Regions from separate parts of the Homo sapiens genome. Here region 2 is linked to region 1. Evidence: fine-mapped expression QTL. A gene starts in region 1. The other region holds a variant in brackets. All regions are shown on one strand. Distances are between the middles of the regions. Region 1 holds the start of RPL15 (ribosomal protein L15). Region 2 overlaps UBE2E1 (ubiquitin conjugating enzyme E2 E1).

Region 1 (2,909 bases):
GTAAATTTGTATTATTAACCAACAAAGTTGCTGAAATTTGTTACAGGAGCAATGGAAGACTAACACAATTTCCTAAGCAGTCTCTCTGCTTCCATTTTTTCTCTCCTTTTAGCCTCAAAAGGAGCAATCCGAGTTATCTTTTTAAAATGTACGCCATATGAAGTCATCCTTCTGTTCAAAATCTGCCAATGAAATCCAAAGTCCATGTGAGAACCTTCACCTCTCCGACGTCATTTCCCACTTTCCCCTACTGTGAATTTCAGCCACACTGCTTCCCTGCTGTTCCTCTATTAATCTTGCATGCTCCAGTCATGGCTCTTCTCCCTCTGCCTGAATCAGACCCCTACTCTTACTCCCAGACTCCTATCCTTGAAGTCCTTTCTTAAATGTTACCTTCTCTCAAAGACTTAACCTGGACACTCCATTCCAAATTGCAACCCTCAGCCGCTAACACTCCCTCATCACTTCCCTCCCCTTATCTTTTTTCCTTAGCATTTACCACCAAACCCAAAACACAGCTTACTTCTGCTTACTGCCCATTTCCAAGAAGGCCAAAAATTCTGCGTTGTTTCCTGCTGCATCCCCAGCAACTATGCCTGGCACATATTAGACACTTAATAAATATTTGTTGAATCAATCAATGAACCAGATAGAGACTCTTAAAAACGTAAAGCTGTGATTTAAAAAGAAAGAAAGAAAAATATGATGTGGGAAAAAAGATAATCAAAACCGCTACGATTAAGAGATAATGATTCTCTTAAGCCTTTGCCACATCTGAACGCATAATCTGGAAGGAAATTAAAGCCACATGACTTAAATTAAAGCCAAGTGAAAATATTCTGGAGAAACAAAGTAAGCCAGTAACCTATTTCTCAATTTAAAAAAAAACCCGCAACGCAAAATGCCAGCATTTTCTCGGCATTTCTTCTCTAAAACATTCACACCTGCCAAACAGGTCTTGGCAAATAAACATTCTGCTCTTCTGAAAAACTGTGGTTCTCATGTTAGCAAATTTGGGACGAAATCCGTATGCAGAAAAAGCGCCGGGCCGCCCGCAATCCACCCACTCCATGACCCTTTTTTAGGACAAAATCCCTGGGCGCTGGGGCCTGCTGGAGGAGCTTCACGCAGTCTGGAGCTGAAGGGACACAGCGAGCGCCCCGACCCGCGACGCCCCGACTCCGCGAAGGCCTCCCTGGGAGGCTGGGGAAGCGTCGGGGGATCTCTCAGCGCAGCTCTGGGGCCCAGATTTCTGCGCCCGTCGTGCGGTGGCCAGAGAGGGACAGCGCAGCGCGGAGACGCGGAGACGCAGAGACTCCGCAGGGGGAGAGCCCGCGGTGCGTGAAACAAACCTGTTCTCTCCTCAGACCTCAAAGACAGCGGCTCCACCGCGGTACGCGGCCACCGGCTTTGGAGCCTGGACCCCAACTTGCCTCCTCTCGCGGAGAGACAGTCGCCGACGCTCGCTTAGCCGCCGAGACCTCGCCGCCAACTCTCTCACCTCTCGAGACGCCCAGGCCGCTCAGGCTCGAATCTTGCGGAGCAGGGGGCGGGACAATAGCGGCCGCGGCGCCCCACTCGGCAGAACTCCGCCACCAGGCGCGATGCCGGAACTACATGTCCCATGACGCTCTGGGAGGCCGCAGCTTTCCACCGGAAAGAGGGTGGCTGAGGTGGGGGAGGAGCCCAAAAGGCATTGTGGGAGTACAGCTCTTTCCTTTCCGTCTGGCGGCAGCCATCAGGTAGGCTGCGTTGAGGATCTTTGCTCTTCCATCCGCCTTTGATCGTCTTCCTCTTCAGCCATCCAGGTCCGGGGACCCTGCGTCCTCGGAGATAGGTCTCCCTCCTGTGCGGCCAGAGTTTGGTCAGGATGCGGGACAGCAAAGGGGTGGAGAGGCGGCCCCCGGGGCGGGTTGAGCGAAGATGTGATGGCGGCGCGAATTCGAGCTGGGCCCGGATCCTGGAGGAGGCGTGGGGCTGACGAATGGGGCGCCCGGGACAAGGCAGCCTAAAGTGAGGCTGCTGGTTGGGTGGGGTAGATGCATTTTCCTCGAGAGTTAATCCTCGGTGGCCGCAGCAGTACCTTGTCCTGTGATGTCAGCGGCATCTCCTTTCAGGTCCTCCTTGGGGACGCCGCCTGCCGCAGCCACCCGCCCCCTTGGTGCTCAGTTCTGGTTCTGTTAATTCGCCCCACCAAAACGTGCCGAGCACCGCTCTGTGCTGGGGTTGCGGAAGTGACTGAACGCGGCTCCGTGGGCGCAGTGGTGGGGGTTGGGCTAGCTGTCCCCGGCAGTTGGTGCAGAGCCATTTTCATTCCCGGCGGTTTCCTTGTTTTTGTTGGGGAACTAAGATGGACGGATACAGTCGTCTTATTGTACTTAAAGCGGATGATATTTAATACACAGTTTGATTTCACAGGTAAGCCAAGATGGGTGCATACAAGTACATCCAGGAGCTATGGAGAAAGAAGCAGTCTGATGTCATGCGCTTTCTTCTGAGGGTCCGCTGCTGGCAGTACCGCCAGCTCTCTGCTCTCCACAGGGCTCCCCGCCCCACCCGGCCTGATAAAGCGCGCCGACTGGGCTACAAGGCCAAGCAAGGTACGTGATCGACTGCGTGGATGCTTGGATAAAATTATATTCGAGAAAAGTTGGAAACCAGCTGTTAGGAAGACACTGCTGCCTCAGTGTCTTTCTTCGCATAGGGCTTTGGCAGAAAAAAGCTAGCAACACTGGTCAGTTACTGTATGCACTGTTGTCTAAAGTGGCAAGTGTGTCAAAGGTTACAAATCTGAATGAGTTCAGACTAAAGCAAAATAAACAGTGTGCCTCCCTGTGTGAGTAGCCTAAGGTGCATTGAAAAAGACTGGGATGTGTTTTATTTTTTTCTATTAGATAGCATTAACTTAC
Region 2 (2,909 bases), 65 kb before region 1:
CTGTTTTATTAATAAAATTCAGGCTTTTTAATGGCTGAATTTTAAAAGTTCTTATTTATCTATCTAATATATCAATCTATTAAGACAAGGTTTCACTATATTGCCCAGGCTGGTATTGAACTCCTGGCCTCAAGTGATTCTCCTGCCTCAGCCTCCCAAAGTGCTGGGATTACACGTGTGAGCCACTGTGCCTGGCCATTAAAAATTATTTTTATTCCAGATAAAAGTACTTTATTAGATACATGATTTACAAGTGTTTTCTACCCTGTCTGTGGGTTGTCTTTTTATTTTCTTGATGGTATTGCTTGCAGTACAAAAGTTTGTGGTTTCAATGAAGTCCAGTTTACCTATTTTTCTTTTGTTGCATGTGTTTTGGAATTGTATTTAAGAAACCATTATCTACTCCTCTTTATTATTATTATTATTTTTTTTTGAGATAGGGTCTTGTTCAGTCACCAGAGCAGTGGTGCAATCCTAGCTCACTGCAGCCTCAAACTCCTGAGCTCAGGTGATGGTCCTGCCTCAGCCAAGTAGCTGGGACTACATGCATGCACCACTGCATCCGGCACACCTGATTGTTTTTTTTTTTTTTTTTTTTGAGATAGGGTCTCTTTCTGTCACCCATGCCAGAGCTGTGGCATGATCATGGCTGTCTGCAGCCTCAGGCTCAAGCAGTCCTCCCACCTCAGCCTCTCCAGTAGCAGGGACTACAGATGTGCGCCACCACACCCAGCTTTTTTTTTTTTTTTTTTTTTTTAAGAGACAGGGTTTTGCCGTGTTGCCCGTTGCCCAGATTGGTCTTGAATTCCTGGGCCCAAGCAGTTTACCTGCCTCAGCCTCCCAAAGTGCTGGGATTACAGGCATGAGCCACCATGCCCAGCCTATTCCTATATTTTCTTCTAAGAGTTTCATACTTTTAGTTTTTCGATTTGGATCAGTAATCCATTTTGAGTTAATTTTTGTGTGTGGTGTGAAGAAGGGTTCAGTTTCATTTTTTTGTTTGTGGCTATTCTTTTGTTCCCAACACCATTTGATAAAAAAGACTATTCTGTCTCCATTGAGCTGATTTGGCACTCTTGTCAAAAATCAATTTACCTGTAAATGTAAGAGTTTATTTCTGGGCTCTTAATTAGGTTCCATTGATCTTTGTATCTATCCTTTTGCTGGTACTACGATGTCTTAATTTCTGTGGCTTCATAGTAAGTTTTGAAATTGAGAAGGAAGTCCTCTAGCTTCGTTCTTTTTAAAGATTGTTTGGCTATTCTATGTTCCTTGCATTTCCATATGAATTTTAGGATCCGCTTGTCAATTTCTGTTTTTCATTTTGTTTTTTTTTAAACAGTCCAGCTGGGGTTTTTACAGGGTTTATGTTGAATCTGTACACCAGTTTGAGAAGTATTCCCATATTAATTTTAGGCTGGGTACAGTGGCTCATGCCTACTATATTCCCAGCACTTTGAGAGACCAAGGTGGAAAGATCACTTGAGGCCAGGAGTTTGAGATGAGCCTGATTAACAAAGTGAGACCCTCTTCTCTATAAAGAATAAAATAAGCCAGCCATGGTGGTGCACATCTGTAGTGCCAGCTAGTCAAGAGGCTGAGGTGGGAAGATCAGTTGAGCCCAGGAGTTCGAGGCTGCAGTGATTGCACCACTGCACTTCAGCCTGGGTGACAGAGACCCTGTCTCTAAAAAATAAAAAAAAAATTAAAATTCAGATCTG[T/C]ACAGTTTGGATGTTTGTCCCCTCCAAATCCTGTGTTGAAATGTGATCCCCAGCATTGGAGGTGGGGCCTGGTGGGAGGTGTTTGGGTCACAGGGACAGACCCTTCATGTATGGCTTGGTGCTGCTCTCACGGTAATGAGTGAGTTTTCACTTGCTTTGTTCATGCAAGATCTCATTGTTTAAACAATGTCTGGGACCTCCCCACTCTCTCATGCTCCCTTTCCTGTCATGTCACATGCCTGCTCTCCCTTCATCTTCTGCCATGAGTGGAAGCTTCCTGAGGCCTCACCAGAAGCAGATGCTGGCACTATGCTTCTTGTACAACCTGGAGAACCATGAGCTAAATAAACCTTTTTTCTTTATAAATTACCTAGCCTTAGATACTCCTTTATAGCAACACAAAATGGACTAACACATGATTCATGAACATTAAATGTCTTTTCAGTTATTTATATTTCCCTTAATTTATTTCAATGATGGTTTTTAGTCTGCAGTGTACATATTTTATGCTTATGTTAAATTTATTCTTATGTATTTTACTCAGATACTATTGTAAATTTGAATTTTTAAAAATTACATTTTCTGATTACTCACGGGTAGTATATAGCGATGGTTGGTTTTTGTGTATTAATTTTGTATCCTACAGCTTTGTTCAGCTTGTTTATTGGTCCTAAGAGCTTTTTAGTGGATTTGAGTTTTCTCTCTACAAGATCATGTCATCTGCAAATACAGATCGTGTTACTTCTTTTCCAATCTGAATACTTTTTATTTCTCTTTTTTCTTTTTTTGAGACAGGGTCTCACTTTGTCATCCAGACTGGAGTGCAGTGGTGCAATCTCAACTCAGTGCAGCCATGACCTTCTGGGCTCAAGCGATCCTCCCACCTCAGCCTCCCCAGTAGCTGGGACTTACAGGCACGTGCCACTGCACCCAGCACACCCAGCTAGGTTTTTGTATTTTTGTAGAGCAGGGGTCTCACCATGTTGCCCAGGCTGGTCACGAACTCCTGGGTTCAAGTGATCCTCCCACCTTGGCGTCCCAGAGTGCTAGGATTATGGGCATGAGCCACCATGCCCAGCCTTATTTTGTTTTGTTTTTTTTTTTGTTTTGAGATGGAGTTTCACTCTTGTTACCCAGGCTGGAATGCAATGGCATGATCTCGGCTCACCACAACTTACGCCTCCTGAG

The links. PIP is the estimated chance that this variant, and not a neighbour inherited with it, causes the effect. A credible set is the group of variants that fine-mapping cannot tell apart.
Region 2: its variant is the best candidate, but not a certain one, in a credible set for the expression of RPL15 in whole blood (INTERVAL, PIP 0.51).

Annotation. Positions count from the first base shown.
Region 1 is chr3:23,915,432-23,918,340 of GRCh38, forward strand. RPL15 (ribosomal protein L15) reads left to right here and starts at 1,701. Exons shown (of 4, transcript NM_002948.5): 1 at 1,701-1,742; 2 at 2,419-2,600. The coding sequence starts at 2,429. It overlaps NKIRAS1 (NFKB inhibitor interacting Ras like 1), which reads right to left and starts at 1,559. Exons shown (of 5, transcript NM_020345.4): 1 at 1,353-1,559. RefSeq lists enhancers at 1,163-1,962, 1,214-2,413, 2,343-2,442.
Region 2 is chr3:23,850,104-23,853,012 of GRCh38, forward strand. All of the region lies in intron 3 of UBE2E1 (ubiquitin conjugating enzyme E2 E1), which reads left to right. Among named protein-coding and RNA genes, the nearest start is that of UBE2E1-AS1, 45 kb to the left of the region's middle. The variant T/C (reference allele first, on the strand shown) is at 1,722.